Regions from separate parts of the Homo sapiens genome. Here region 2 is linked to region 1. A link means that fine-mapping ties the variant in region 1 to the expression of a gene that starts in the linked region. Tissue or cell type: whole blood. Region 1 holds a variant in brackets; the other region holds the start of a gene. All regions are shown on one strand. Distances are between the middles of the regions.

Region 1 (8,102 bases):
ACCTCCCTGGGCCAGGCTTGAGCCATGAATTTTAATCAGAACGGTTTGGGAAATATATATATATATATATATATATATATATATATATATATGTGTATATATATATGTATATATATGTATATATATGTATATATATGTATATATATGTGTATATATGTGTATATATGTGTATATATATGTGTATATATGTGTATATATGTATATATGTGTATATATATGTATATATGTATATATATATGTATATATGTGTATATATATATGTATATATATATATGTGTGTATATATATATATATATGTATATATATATATAATTTTTTTTTTTTTTTTTTTTTTTTTTTTTTTGAGACAGAGCCTCACTCTGTTGCCCAGGCTGGAGTGCAGTGGCGCAATCTCGGCTCACCACAACCTCTGCCTCCAGGGTTCAAGCGATTCTCCTGCCTCAGTCTCCCGAGTAGCTGGGACTACAGGCTCGCGCCACCATGCCTGGCTAATTTTTGTATTTTTAGTAGAGACAGGGTTTCACTTTGTTGGCCAGGCTGGTCTTGAACTCCGGACCTCATGATCTGCCTGCCTTGGCCTCTCAAAGTGCTGGGATTACAGGCGTGAGCCACTGCGCCTGGCCACAAAGGTACTTCTTTCGTTAAATTTATTCCTAAGTACTTTATTCTTCACTGTTAAGTATGGTGTTAGCTGTTGGTTTTTTGCAGATGCCCATTTCAGGTGAGGAAGTTCCCTTCTCTTTCTAGTTCATTTAATGTGTTTATTAAGAAAAGTCATGGCCAGGTGCAGTGGCTCATGCCTGTAATTTCAGCATTTTGGGAGGGCGAGGCAGGTGGATTACCTGAGGTCAGGAGTTCAAGACCAGCGTGGTCAACATGGTGAAACCCCATCTCTACTAAAAATAGAAAACTAGCCAGGTGTGGTGGCACATGCCTGTAATCCCAGCTACTAGGGAAGCTGAGGCAGGAGAATCGCTTGAACCTGGGAGGTGGAGGTTGCAGTGAGCTGAGATCGCACCATTGCACTCCAGCCTGGGCAACAAGAGTGAAACTACGTCTCAAAAAAAAAAAAGAAAAGAAAGGTCACTAGATTTTGTCAAATGCTTTTCCAATGTCTAATGAAATGATCATGTGATTTTTGTCCTCTCTTCTGTTAATGTAGTATATTAGAATAATTGATTGCCTTTTCTTTTTTTGAGACGGAGTCTTGTTCTGTCGCCAGGCTGGAGTGCAGTGGCGCGATCTCGGCTCACTGCAACCTCCACCTCCCGGGTTCAAGTGATTTTCCTGCCTCAGCCTCCCAAGTAGCTGGGACTATAGGCGTGCACCACCACGCCCAGCTAATTTTTGTATTTTTCGTAGAGATGGGGTTTCACCATGTTTGCAAGGATGGTCTTGATCTCTTGACCTCGTGATCTGCCCCCGTCGGCCTCCCAACACTAATTGTTGATTTTCATATGTTCAACCTTGCATTACTGGGATAAATTCCCTGTCATGGCTTATAATACTTGTTTTTTTTTTTTTTTTTTTTTTTAGACAGAGTCTTACTCTGTCGCCCAGGCTGGAGTTCAGTGGCATGATCTCGGCTCATTGCAACCTCCACCTCTTGGGTTCAAGTGATTCTCCTGCCCCCGCCTCCTGAGTAGCTGGGTTACAGGCATGCACCACTATGCCTGGCTAATTTTTTTATTTTTAGTAGAGACAGGGGTTTCACCATGTTGGCCAGGGTGGTCTTTTTTTTTTTTTTTTTTTTTGAGACGGAGTCTCGCTCTGTCGCCCAGGCCGGACTGCGGACTGCAGTGGCGCAATCTCGACTCACTGCAAGCTCCGCTTCCCGGGTTCACGCCATTCTCCTGCCTCAGCCTCCCGAGTAGCTGGGACTACAGGCGCCCGCCACCGCGCCCGGCTAATTTTTTGTATTTTTAGTAGAGACGGGGTTTCACCTTGTTAGCCAGGATGGTCTCAATCTCCTGACCTCATGATCCACTCGCCTCGGCCTCCCAAAGTGCTGGGATTACAGGCGTGAGCCACCACGCCCGGCCTGGCCAGGGTGGTCTTGAACTCCCGACCTCAGGTGATCCACCCATCTCGGCCTCCAAAGTGCTGAGATTACAGGTGTGAGCCACCACACCCAGCCAGTGGTGTAGTTTTCTTATAATGTCTCTGTATTGAGTATGAGGGTAATTTTGGCCTCAATGGATGAGTTGGGAATGTTTCCTTCTCTTCTGTTTTCTGGAAGAGTTTCTTAAGTATTGGTGTTAATTCTTATTTCAGTATTGTTAGTATTCACCTTTGAAGCCATCAGGGCTTGGGGTTGTGTGTGTTTTGGGGGGAATGTTTTTTAATAACAACAAGAAAACCCTCTTTGTTACATTTGTATTTAGATTTTCTGTTTCTTCTTGACTCAGTTTTGATAGTTTGTGTCTACTTGGGAATTTGTCCATTTCATCTAAGTTATCCAATTTGTTGGCATACATTTGTACATAGTATTTCATTATTTTTTAATTTTTATAAGGTTACTAGTGATGTCCTTTTTCCATTCCTGTTCAAAGTAGTATTGAGTCTTCTCTCTGTTTTTTGTCACTCTAGGTAAACATTTGCCAATTTTGTTGATTTTTTCAAAGAACCAAATTTTGGTTTGTCGGTTCTCTTTTTCTAATCTGTTTCATTCGTTTCTGCTCTAATTTTTATTATTTCCCTCCTTTTGCTATCTTTGGGTTTGTTTTTCTTTTTCTTGTTCCTTGAGGTATAAAGTTAGGTTATTGGTTTGAGATCTTTTAAAATATGGGTATTTATAGCCATAATGTTCCTGCTAAGCTCTGCATTTTCTGCATCCCATAATTTTTTGTTTGTTGTGGTATTTTTTTCTTTTTCTTTTTCTTTTTTTTTAATTTTTCTTTTTGAGATGGAGTCCTGTTGCCCACGCTGGAATGCAATGGTGCGATCTCGGCTCAATGCAATCTCCACCTCCTGGGTTCAAGCAATTCTGCTGCCTCAGCCTCCCAAGTCGCTGGGATTACAGGCATGTGCCACCATGCCTGGCTAATTTTTTTTTTTTTTTGAGGTGGAGTCTGATGCCTCCCAGGCTGGAGTGCAGTGGTGCGATCTTGGCTCACTGCAACCTCCGCCCCCCAAGTTCAAGCGATTCTCCTGCCTCAGCCTCCCGAGTGGCATGGTCCACCACACCTGGCTAATTTTTGTATTTTTTTTTTTTGGTAGAGACAGGGTTTCGCCATGTTGGCCAGGCTGGTCTTGAACTCCAGACCACAGGTGATCCACCCACCTCAGCCTACCAAAGTGCTGGGATTACAGGCGTGAGCCACCACCCGGCCTGTTGTATTTTTCTTTTCTTTTCTTTTTTTCTTTTTTTGAGATGGAGTCTTGCTCTGTCACCCAGGCTGGAGTGCAGTGGCACTATCTCGGCTCACTGCAAGCTCCGCCTCCTGGATTCATGCCATTCTCCTGCCTCAGCCTCCCGAGTATCTGGGATTACAGGCGCCCACCACCACGCCTGGCTAATTTTTTTTTGTATTTTTAGTAGAGACGGGGCTTCACTGTGTTCGGCAGGATGGTCTCAAACTCCTGACCTTGTGATCCACCTGCCTCGGCCTCCCAAAGTGCTGGGATTACACTTGAGCCACCACACCCAGCCCTGTGTTTTTATTTTCATTCCTCCCAAAGTACTTGTAATTGTCATGTGATTTATTTTTTCTTTGACTCTGGATTTTTAGGAATGTTTTGTTTAAATTCCTTAAATTTGTGAGTTTCCTAAATTTCTTTCTGTTGTTGATTTCTGTTTTAATTCATTTGTGGACAGAGAACATACTTGACATTATTTCAATCCTTTGAAATCTACTGAGGCTTGCTTTATTTATTTATTTATTTATTTTGAGACAGAGTCTTGCTCTGTCGCCCAGGCTGGAGTGCAGTGGCGCGATCTCAGCTCACTGCAAGCTCTGCCTCCTGGGTTCACGCCATTCTCCTGCCTCAGCCTCCTGAGTAGCTGGGACTACAGGCGCCTGCCACCATGCCCGGGTAATTTTTTTTTTGTATTTTTAGTAGAGATGGGGTTTCACTGTGTTAGCCAGGATGGTCTTGATCTCCTGACCTCATGATCTGCCCGTCTCGGCCTCCCAAAGTGCTGGGATTACAGGCATGAGCCACCGCGCCCAGCCGAGGCTTATTTTATATCCTAGCAAATGGTATGTTCTGAAGACCGTTCCATGTGCACGTGACAATGTATATCCTGCTGTTGTTAGGTGGCAAGCTCTATAGATGTCTGTTAGGACTAGTTGGTTTTCATTGTTGTTCAAGTCTGCTGTTGTTATTGATGGTGGGAAATTACAATCGTTATTATTGCTGAACAGTCTGTTTCTTCAGTTATGTCAGTTTTGCTTCATAGAAAGGCTTTTTTTTTTCTTTTTGTTTGTTTGTTTGTGTTTTTGAGACAGAGTCTCGCACTGTCGCCCAGGCTGGAGTGCAGTGGTGTGATCTCAGCTCACTGCAAGCTCTGCCTCCCAGGTTCATGCCATTCTCCTGCCTAAGCCTCCCGAGTAGCTGGGACTACAGGTGCCCGTCACCACATCCGCCTGATTTTTTTGTATTTTTAGTAGAAGGGGGGTTTCACCGTGTTAGCCAGGATAGTCTTGA[T/C]CTCCTGACCTCGTGATCCGCCCACCTTGGCCTCCCAAAGTGCTGGGATTACAGGCGTGAGCCACTGCGCCCGGCCTGTTTGTTTGTTTTTGAGACAGGGTCTCACTCTGTTGCCCAGGCTAGAGTCCAATGGTGTGATCGTGACTCACTGACGCTTTGACCTCCTAGGCTCAAGTGATCCTCTCACTATGGCCTCCCTAGTAACTGGGACTACAGGTGGTGCATGCCATCATGCCTGGCTAATTAAAATAATATATTTTTTGTAGAGTTGGGGTCTTACTGTGTTGCCCAGGCTGGTTGCGAACGTCTGGGTTTAAGTGATCTCCTACCTCACTTTCCAAAGTGCTGGGATTACAGGCATCAGCCACCATGCCCAGCCTGTTTCTTTTACTACCTGTCACCCGCAGGACTTGCACCTTCGAGATCCCCTGTGTTTACCCAGCTGGAGGATGATGAACAGTCGTGGGTGCCCAGCTGGGTGGATGTGACTCCAGTCAGCAGAGCAGAAGCCAGGAGAGGTTTTGGTCTTGGTAAGTGGAGTGGAGGGGAATACCTTGGTTTCAGCAGTGGGCTCACAGAATGCTGAGTACCTGCATACACCGATACCTTGGTGTTGAGGGCAGTGACCATACCTTATTTCCTTCCACCTTTCCTGTCTTATGTGGACACTGTGCAGTCTGCCATCTCTACCATGATTTTCAGGCCCCGCATGTTCCTGCCTCTCTGGCCTGCGTCTCCTCATTGCCCTTCTCTGTATCTGTGCAGAGCTGTCTACTGTTGGCGACTCAGTGCGTGTCTTGAAATGTGCACATATCCTTAAACAGGTATTTGAACTTCAGCCAATCCTTAATTAATACTTAAACACCAGCTACTATTTTGGAATCACATTTTGCTGGGACTAGACACATGCCTCCTCATAGTGCTTGGCTGTCACCAGCAGCCAAGGCCCTGCTGAAACCCTTTGCAGAGGAGTGACTTGGAGACCCCACCTCTCTTCCCTGCACCATATCCTATCTTGTGCCCTCATCTCAGTTGAGGTTTTCCTTAGTCTGTAGTCTGGTGGAGCCATATTCAGTTGTGCCAGGCTTTCCCAACCCAGACCTTTCCTAGCAACCTCTCAGCAATTCTTTTTTTTTTAAGATGGAGTTTTGCTCTTATTGCCCAGGCTGGAGTGCAGTGGCGCAATCTCAGCTCACTGCAACCTCTGCCTCCTGGGTTCATGCCATTCTCCTGCCTCAGCCTCTTGAGTAGCTGGGACTACAGGCGCCTGCCACCATGCCTGGCTAATTTTTTTTTTTTTTTTTGAGTCGGAGTTTTGCTCTTACTGCCCAGGCTGGAGTGCAGTGGCGCGATCTCAGCTCACTGCAGCCTCTGCCTCTGGATTCAAGTGATCCTCCTGCCTCAGCCTCCCGAGTAGCTGGGATTACAGGCATGCATCACCACACCCGGCTAATTTTGTATTTTTAGAAGAGATGGGGTTTCGTCGTGTTGGTCAGGCTGGTCTCGAACTCCTGACCTCACGTGATCTGCCCGCCTTGGCCTCCCAAAGCACTGGGATTACAGGCGTGAGCCACCACGCCTGGCCCTTTCAGCAGTTCTATGGAGTCCTTCTGGGTGTGTCTGACATGCACTGGTGATTAAGGTACCTCCTCCCTCTAGTTCAACTCTTAGTAATGATTCATCTCTGCTTTCAGATGGTTTGTGTAGAGTGGAGGATGAGAGAGCCCATCCTGAGCATCTAAAGAGCTACAGAGTCATCCAGCACCAGGACACTCATAGTGAGGGGAAACCAAGAAGGCACACTGAGCATGGGGCAGCTTTCCCACCTGGTTCCAGTTGTGGGCAACAGCAAGAAGTCCATGTGGCAGAGAAGCTGTTCAAATGCAGTGACTGTGGGAAGGTGTTCTTAAAGGCCTTTGCCCTCCTTGACCATCTGATAACGCATTCTGAAGAGAGACCCTTCAGATGCCCAACAGGCAGAAGTGCTTTCAAGAAGTCAGCTCATATTAACCCCCGAAAAATTCACACTGGAGAAACAGCCCATGTGTGTAATGAATGTGGGAAGGCCTTCAGTTACCCGTCTAAGCTGAGGAAACACCAGAAGGTTCACACAGGCATAAAACCTTTTAAGTGTAGTGACTGTGGTAAAACCTTCAACCGCAAAGACGCACTTGTTCTACACCAGAGGATTCACACTGGAGAAAGGCCTTACGAGTGCAGCAAATGTGGTAAAACCTTCAGTGTTCTGTCTACCCTCATTCGGCACCGGAAAGTGCACATTGGAGAAAGGCCCTATGAGTGTACAGAATGTGGGAAGTTCTTTAAATACAATAATAGCTTCATTCTTCACCAGAGAGTTCACACTGGAGAAAGGCCTTTTGAATGCAAGCAATGTGGGAAAGGCTACGTGACCCGTTCAGGCCTCTATCAGCACTGGAAAGTCCACACTGGGGAACGGCCCTATGAATGTAGCCTGTGTGGGAAAACCTTCACTACCAGATCCTACCGCAATCGGCACCAGCAGTTCCACACTGAAGAGAGGTCTTATGAATGTACAGAGTGTGGGAAGGCCTTCAAACATAGTTCCACCCTCCTTCAGCACAAGAAAGTCCATACTCCAGAAAGGCGTCAGGAGGACAGGGCACATGGGAAGGTCGTTAGCTGCTAGCACCGTGTTCATCAGGAAAGGTCTTATTCCAGAAAGGAGGTTAAGGAGAGTGGCCGTGAGAGTGCCATCCGAAAGAAGCTAAACCTTGCACATCCCAACACCCACCCCAGGGAGAGTTCCCGTGTGTGCCTGGTGTGTGGGACGCTTTCGGGAGCCACATTGCACTCTGACTTGCCTGGGGCTGTTGGCAGTGTCACATCACTGAGTTTATCCACCGCCATCCACCTCTATCCACCCCATAAGGTCCCTACAGCAAGTGGGACAGCAGACCTTGTGCTCCTTGCTCTAAACAGTAGAGAATCGTTAATAGTGGAGCCCAAAACAGGCCTCATTCCCTACCCTTGACTGGTTTAGCTGTGGACATGACCCACCTCTGGCCGGAGGAGCTGAGCTGGTATCTGCTGGGGGCTTCCTGGGAAGGTTTACCATTTTCATGGAAATGGTTGACATTACACATGGTATTTGTCATGCCCTAGCATGGACTGTCTCATACTGCTCTGGACTATGTGGTAATAAAGGCTTTATTGTTTAAGCCGCTTAAAATTTTTTTTTTATTTTTTTTTTGAGATGGTCTTATTCTGTTGCCCAGGCTGGAATGCAGTGGTGCCATCATAGCTCACCACAGCCTTGAACTGCTGGTCTCAAGGGATCTTCCTGCTTCAGCCTCCTGAGTAGCTGGCACTACAGGTGTGCGCCATCACACCTGGCTAATTTTTTTTTTTCATTTGTGGACAGGGTCTTGCTATATTGCCCAAGCTGGTCTCGAACTCTGAGCCTCAAGCTA
Region 2 (8,102 bases), 26 kb after region 1:
ATGAGGCTGCTCAGAGAGAGACAGGGGAAGTACACACAGCAGAACCTCAGCACCCCAGCACCTACAACAGGAAACCCGAGAAGGAAGCAGTACCCATGATCTGGCTTTGGGATGAACAGAGCTTTCTATGGGGAAAAGACACAAGGCATAAGGTAGTCATCACCATGCTGAGACAGGGCATTACCAAGTGAGGTCACAAGCTCAAGGTTTTCCAGCATCACACTGTGGTACAGGTGCCTCTGGGCTGCATCAAGGAGCTCCCACTCCTCTTGGGAGAAGTATACAGCCACATCTTCAAAGGTTACCATGCTCTTCAATGTGGGGACAGCTGAGCCACAGGGCCAAGAAGTATGCTGACAAAGAAACAAACAATTGGTCAAATGGAAATATGCAGGACCTTGCTGTGTGACTCAGAATCCTGATACATCTACCACTAATATCTCTTTTTCTTATGATCCTCTCAGTCCACCCACTACTCACCCATCCACAGCTTATCTTCTTCCTCAGGGCCCCCACCTAACATGCCCTGGAATTAATGGTGCCCCTCTCTCCTAGTAGTCCCACTGGTCACTGTATCCAGGCCAACCCAACCTAGAGGAACAATAGGCAGGTGGGCAGATGGATGCTTCCTCCTCCCTCCTGCTGGCCAATTTTCCTTGTGTCTTCTGGCTCATACCTCCCAAACATAAGAAAATTTGGGCTTCCCTTTCTTAAGCCTCTTGTACCAGGGCCATGGGCCCAATGGTTCACATTCTCTCACCTTTACATGTCACTCCTCAGACCATACAGTTCTTATATTTCCAACCCCTCCCTGTTCACACTGTAGGCATTCTCCCTAGCATCTCACCATGCACATGGCATACCTGACAGATGCAACCGGGATCCATTCCTGGTCCAAGCCAGCTACAGAGCTCCAAAAACCCCACTGCAAGAGGCAGTCATAGCCCCTCAAGTCAATGCCTCCCCTGCCAGCCCTGTTCCTTCAACCATCAGCTGCCCAGAACCATAAGCAGATCTCAAATATCTCTTCCCTCTGATATCTTTGCCTTTGTATGTGTTGTCTCCTCCCCAGTCATAGCTGTCCTTGCTCTTCCTAACACTCAAATCCAAGATCCACTGGCCCCCACCTTGGCTTGGGGACTCAGCTTAGGCTGACCCTTTCTGATCTTGCCACTCCACCAGCCTGACAAAAACCCCAGGACCCTATTTAAGAAGAGATAACATGCCCTGACCACAAGAAGGATGGCCGCAACAATGTAGTGAGCTGTAGAGAAGCAAATCAACCTAAACCAAAGCCCAACTCTCATCCTACTTTTGCCGCTATGCTTCACTGTTGTCCTAGACCTACTCTCTGCTCAGGAGGCTCAGCCACTATCTTGAACCCAACCCACAACTGCATGCAGTGTCCACACACAAGCATCCATCCCTTGGATGTTTCCAGCCTAAACCCGACATAATTTCATAATCACATGTTTAGTGGTCTACTTGGCACCTCAATTTGGTAGTGTCTGGGACATCTCAAATACAACATGGCCAAAATCCAACTCTTTATCTTCCCCCTGAAATCTACTCCTCACACCAACTTCCACATCTGAAAGATCTAAGGTCAATTTTTTTTTTTTTTTTTTTGAGACAGAGTCTCGCTCTGTCACCCAGGTTGGAGTGCAGTGGCGCGATCTTGGCTCACTGCAAGCTCCGCCTCCCGGGTTCAAGCCATTCTCCTGCCTCAGCCTCCCGAGTAGCTGGGACTACAGGCACCCACCACCACGCCTGACTAATTTTTTGTATTTTTAGTAGAGATGGGGTTTCACCGTGTTAGCCAGGATGGTCTCAATCTCCTGACCTAGTGATCCACCTGCCTCGGCCTCCCAAAGTGCTGGGATTACAGGCGTGAGCCACCACGCCCGGCAATTTTTTTTTTTTTTTAAGACAGAGTCTCGCTCTGTCACTCAGGCTGGAGCGCAGTGGCACGATCTCAGCTCAATGCAACCTCCATCTCCCAGATTCAAACAGTTCTTCTGCCTCAGTTTCCCAAGTTGCTGGGATTACAGGTGCACACTACCATGTCCTGGCTAATTTTTCTGTATTTTTAGTAGAGGTGGGGTTTCGCCACGTTGGCCAGGCTGGTCTTGAACTCCTGACCTCAAGTGATCTGGCCGCCTTGGCCTCCCAAAGTGCTGGGATTACAAGTGTGAGCCACTGCACTCAGCCTTAGGTCAATCTTAACATTTCACTTTCTTTCACTGTCCCACATCAGGTAATCCATGGCCCAGTTTGGGCAGATTCAGAAGCCAACCATCTGTCCTACCTCCACGGGCACCCCTCTGTCCAGCTACCCAAAGCACACATCTGGACCACATCTGTCAGCTCCTCACTGGCCTTCCTGCTCCACCATCACCATCCCTCCAGTCTGCTGCCCACTAGGCATCCATAGGGCGTCTGTTAAGACTGGAGTCAGAGCACCTACTTCCTCTACTCCAAACCTTCCATGGCTCCCACCACCATCAGAATAGAGGTCCAGCTCCTCAGGCTGCCATTCCAGGCCTAACTATTGGTTTCCCTTCCCTGTTTCCACCAGACTAAATGGAGACCGGCAGTCCCCAGAATGCTTCCATTTCATCACCACTAAACAAGGTACACATGCTGGTCACTGTCCCTGGGACAGCCTTCCAGATCTCATTCCACAGGATTCCAGAAATGGGAATCCCTCGATATAACCCCTTGCCTGGATTCAGGATGGTAAGGGTAAGTGACTCCCAGGGCAGGGCCCAGGACCCACGTGTGAGGACAGGACACGATCAAGAGTCCCAGGACACCAACATCCCCTCTATCTGGGCTTCAGGATCCTGAGGGCCGGAATCCCAGCGGGTGAGGGCCTGGGGCACACTCCACTTACCTGCGCCGGGCCCATCAGCAACGCTGGCAACCCCATTAGAACCTGTGGGCTGGGCAGGGCCATAACAGGAGGCCCAGGGCTAGCCCTGCCGCTGGGCCGAACCCTCACACTTCCGCTGGGTGACGGTCGCACTCAGGACCTGTCTTCCCAAATGCAAAATGCGCGCAAGGCCTCTGGGCACCGCAGGGACGAAGGCTGGGTATGGAGACCCTGGAGACGCGTGGCGCTGGCTCCACTTTCGGGAACACCTTGGCTCATAAAAGCAGAGTAATTAGCCGGGCACTATGGTGCGTGTGAAGGCGCGGTGACGGTCCCTGCACCCACTCCCGTGCCCTGGTGTGGCTCCAGAGGCCTGCTGTAGCCCAACCCACCAGCAGCAAAATGAGGACCGCAATGGCGGCGCCGGAAGTCCCGCCTCTCAATGACAGCTCGGACTTGCCACTGGTCCGAGCTTTCATTGGCTCAAGGATCCCCGCCGTCTATGACGCTATTTCCCTATGCCCGTCACGCTACTGCTAGGTCGTTGCCAAGGTGATTGAGGAATGGCGTTTATTGCGTCGCTGCTCAGGCAACGCAAACTACATTATCCAGAAGGACCCTCGCGGTGCCTCAGGGCTGGCCATTGGCAGCCGAGGAGACAGGCACTTCCGGGCGGAGTGTAAGACGCTGGCCAATCACAGCCTGGCAGCGGGACTTCCGTCGTCGTCCTCGGACCATCACTTTGGCATTTCTCGATTTTGTCTGCTTCTGAAGGGACCGCGTTGTCAGGCGAGGGACGGAATCTTGGAGGCTCCCTGGGCCCATGGAAACAGGAGCGAGGAAGGCACGAGAGTCGGGGAAGTTCCGCCTTCTTGACATACAAGCGCCCCCACCGCGGCGAATATCGCCCCTGAGCCCAGTGTTCGCCCCCCACAACACCGCACCCCCCTTCCCCACCCTGTGCCTTAGATAAAGCCGGCCCAGTGGGACCCTCAGGTTGCACCGCGCGGAGGTGTCCGCGGCTCTCGGGAGTCGTCGCCCTTGGCGTTATGTTGGCTTTAGGGAGCGCGAGGCCGAGGCCAAGAAAAGCTACGCATTGGGAGGTCTTGACCCAGTGTGCGCCCGGCTGTAGGCATGGAACGTGCGCCAAAGGTCTCCTGGCACCCACTCCGCTGGACTCAGCACCATTGTCCTAAGTCTCCGATTGAGAAGTATCTGCCCCAGGTCCTCTGCGGGCCCCACTGAACAGTGTGGAGCGTTCACAGGTTGGGGGTCACCATTTCAGAATCCAGTTTGTTGAGACGTGGAGGGTACAGGAGGAGGGATCTGCATATGCGAAGACTTGGACTTGACCCTGACCTGAGCGTTCAGGCAGGCTCTCATGCCCCCTTGGCAGCGAGTGGAGAGCGTAAGAGGAGTCCTGCCTCTCCTGGCACACCGAGGGCGCCTGGGAGCCATGAAAGGTGTTGAACAGAAAAGGGATGGACATGACCTGAGTTAGAATTTGGAAAGTATTTCAGTGGTTGCTGAATGAACACACTACTGGAGAAGGTGGTTGTAGTGGGGCTGGAAGCAGGGAGACTGTGGGGGAGGTTATTGCAGTATTGTTCCAGACAGTTATGATAGTGGCCTGTCCAGAACGGAAGCAAGAAGGATGGGAGAAGTGATCAGATTCCCAGTGGATCTTCAAGATAGAGCTAATGGAATTTTTTGCTACCTTAGATAAGTGGAATAAGCATGAGTAGGGGTGAAGGACCATCCCAAGTAGTTAGGAAGAATTAGGATGCCTCCTGTGGAGAATAGAGGTTGGCAGTTGGCAGGAGGAGGATGTTTCATGGAAGATTAGCGATGGATTTTGTAGGTATAGAGTCTGAATTGTCTGGAGACCTGTGAGTGGAGGTGTCAAATGGGCCTCTGGATATATAGAATTCTGGTGTGGCTTCAGGACGTCCAGACTGCATTATGTTGGTGGCCTGGCCCAGTGAACGGCCTGAGGATAGGATTTGGGAAGGAGGGTTTTAGGTTGGAGGACCAGTGGCTAGGGCTCACGCTCAGTGCTTAGATCACATCTGTCTGCCCATTGGCTTGGTGTTGCAGGGCTTAATGACCTTTGAGGACAGGGTCAGTACATCTTCCAAGAATGTGGGGCTCCTTAGTGAGGTCCAAGGGGGCTTCTACAGTGACATGATACTACAGAGCTTTGTACTCCAGTGCCCACTAGGTAAGGCTACTGTGTCTCCTCTTTCCCCTACACATGAAATCTAGGTTTTCCTCCGCCTTTCCATTGTTCCCTCTGGGAGGTGCTGCTGGCCCTGGCACTGGCCAGTGTCCTGCTGTGTCCGGAATTGTTTCCTTCCTCTGGGTTCTTGGTCTCGCTGACTTCAAGAATAAAGCCGCGGACCCTCGTGTTGAGTGTTACAGTTCTTTTTTTTTTTTTTTTTTGAGACGGAGTCTCGCTCTGTCGCCCAGGCCGGACTGCGGACTGCAGTGGCGCAATCTCGGCTCACTGCAAGCTCCGCTTCCCGGGTTCACGCCATTCTCCTGCCTCAGCCTCCCGAGCAGCTGGGACTACAGGCGCCCGCCACCGCACCCGGCTAATTTTTTTTTTTTGTATTTTTAGTAGAGACGGGGTTTCACCTTGTTAGCCAGGATGGTCTCGATCTCCTGACCTCATGATCCACCCGCCTCGGCCTCCCAAAGTGCTGGGATTACAGGCGTGAGCCACCGCGCCCGGCCCTGTTACAGTTCTTAAAGATGGTGTGTCCGGAGTTTGTTCCTTCAGATGTTCAGATGTGTCTGGAGTTTTTTCCTTCTGGTGGGTTCGTGGTCTTGCTGACTTCAGGAGTGAAGCTGCAGACCTTCGCAGTGAGTGTTACAGCTCTTAAAGGTGGCACATCCAGAGTTGTTCATTCCTCCTGGTGGGTTCGTGGTCTCGCTGACCTCAGGAGTGAAGCTGCAGACCTTTGCAATGAGTGTTACAGCTCGTAAAGGTGGCGTGTCCAATGTTGTTTGTTCCTCCCAGTGGGTTTGTGGTCTCGCTGGCTTCAGGAGTGAAGCTGCAGACCTTTGTGGTGAGTGTTATAGCTCATAAAGGTAGTGTGGACCCAAAGAGTGAGCAGCAGCAAGATTTATTGCGAAGAGCAAAAGAATAAAGCTTCTACAGCATGGAAGAGGACCCGCGGGTTGCCGCTGCTGGCTTGGGTGGCCAGCTTTTATTCTATTTGGCCCTGCCCACATCCTGCTGATTGGTCCATTATACAGAGCACTGATTGGTCCATTTTACAGAGCACTGATTGGTCCATTTTACAGAGCACTGATTGGTCCATTTTTACAGAGTGCTGATTGGTGAGTTTACAAACCTATAGCTAGACACAGAGTGCTGATTGGTGCATTTACAATCCTTTAGCTAGACAGAAAAGTTTTCCAAGTCCCCAGCCAATTAGCTAGACACAGAGCGCTGATTGGTGCGTTTACTAACCTTTAGGGAGACACAGAGCGCTGATTGGTGCATTTTTACAGAGTGCTGATTGGTGCGTTTACAAACCTTTAGCTAGACACAGAGCGCTGATTGGTGTGTTGGCAGTCCTTTAGCCGGACAGAAAAGTTCCCCAAGTCCCCACTGGACCCAGAAGCCCAGCCGGCTTCACTTTTCACTGCTACTTATCCCTGGCTGCTGCATAAACAACCCCCACACCTTCCCTGGGATCTTGACAACCTTGTGAAGCCACAGTGATGGTCCCTGCACCCACTCCCACGCCCTTGTCCAGCTCTAGAGGCCTCCTGTAGCCCAACCCACAAGCCACAAAATGAGGACCATCATGGCGGTGCCGGAAATCTCACCCCTCAATGCCCACCTGGAATCGGAAGTCTCAAAACCTGTGTAGCATATCACATGCAGCTGGGTCGTTTCCTGGCTAGGTTACCCTGTCAGGATCTGTGACTTTTCTGTCCTTTCTGCCACATTCCCTCACTCTAGTAGGAGTTTTCTGCCAGCTGTCCCTTGTGAGTCCCAGTGGGCACTGACATGGTCATTGATTGTGGGGTCACTGAGCATTGACTTTGTGAAGTTCAGTTCTTTCCAGCTATATACCTGCATAGGTGATCTTCACCTACGGTGATTTGTCATGGGGTGGATCACCTTGACGTGGGCTGCCTTCTCACAAACCACTTGATGAGAGCTGTATAGGATCACTGCCACCACCCCCGCCATGTGATCACCTAACTAGAACAAATGAAGAGACCTGGCTGGTGGACAGGGTGGCTTGAATTAGGCCATGGACAGAGAGGCCCCATGGTGCACCAGTTCTGTTGAGTGGAAGACAGCTGTGGCAGAGCTGTTGGCAGTGCCCTGGTGGCTCACCTGGTACCTGAGTTGTGCCCTCTGTTGTCCTGGCACCAGGATGTATAGCTGTGCCTTTTAAAAAAAATTTTCCTGACCTTCTTCTGACACTCTATCCTACTTTGCCCTGACTCCTGTTCCCTGGATGGCTTCCTCTCTGTCTTCCAAGATTCACTCTTTCCCCTTCTCCCGTCCTCCCCTCCAGTGGCCAGGTCTTCTACCATTGGCCTCCCTTTAATGTGTCTTGAACGGATAATGTATCTTTAAATAGTTGTTATCTGCACATGGTGGCTCATAACTACAGTCCCAACTACTTGGGATGCTGAGGCAGGAGGAGCGCTTGAGACCAGGAGTTTGAGTCCAGCTTGGGCAACATAACGAGATCCTATCTCTAAAATAAATAAATAAATACATAGATACCTAAATAGTTTTTGAAAACCTCTTCTTCCGTGAGACTGGCTTGTTCCATTTGAGGAGTATGGGCATAGGTGTCAATGGTTCAAGACCTGGACTTCGCTCACTGCATGGTACTGACCTGTCACCAGACACTAGGGCCCTGCAGCTCCACATTTTGCAGAACCTACAGAGAACTGACACTGAAGAGATAGCTGATAAATACACAGCATATGGAAAGGTGTTTGAGGGGAAGCAAGCCTTTTCTCCTACCAAAAAACTTCACAGTGGAAAAAATTGCAAGTGTATTATGAGCATGGGAAGGCCTTCACTTTTGTCTTCATCCTGAGAAAGCAGGAGTACATGCACATCTTCAAAGGCCCTTACAAGTATAGTAACATGGGGAATCCTCCAGCCAGAACTCTACCTCCTTTGAGCACCAATATGTTCACCCCAGAGAAAGTCCCCATAAGCGCAAGGAGTGTGGTCCAGCCA

The links. PIP is the estimated chance that this variant, and not a neighbour inherited with it, causes the effect.
Region 2: ZNF132 starts here. The variant in region 1 is fine-mapped to the expression of ZNF132 in whole blood (TOPMed, PIP 0.96).

The regions. Positions count from the first base shown.
Region 1 is chr19:58,410,467-58,418,568 of GRCh38, forward strand. ZNF584 (zinc finger protein 584) reads left to right here. Exons shown (of 4, transcript NM_173548.3): 3 at 5,058-5,180; 4 at 6,345-7,861. The coding sequence ends at 7,318. It also overlaps a transcript of ZNF324B not described here. Among named protein-coding and RNA genes, the nearest start is that of ZNF584, 5.9 kb to the left of the region's middle. The variant T/C (reference allele first, on the strand shown) is at 4,651.
Region 2 is chr19:58,436,863-58,444,964 of GRCh38, forward strand. ZNF132 (zinc finger protein 132) reads right to left here and starts at 3,291. Exons shown (of 3, transcript NM_003433.4): 1 at 2,897-3,291; 2 at 185-353. The coding sequence starts at 2,959. ZNF132-DT (ZNF132 divergent transcript) reads left to right here and starts at 3,586. Exons shown (of 1, transcript NR_186311.1): 1 at 3,586-7,639. It also overlaps a transcript of ZNF324B not described here and the pseudogene LOC100419848. RefSeq lists enhancers at 2,957-3,467, 3,700-3,829, 3,979-4,488.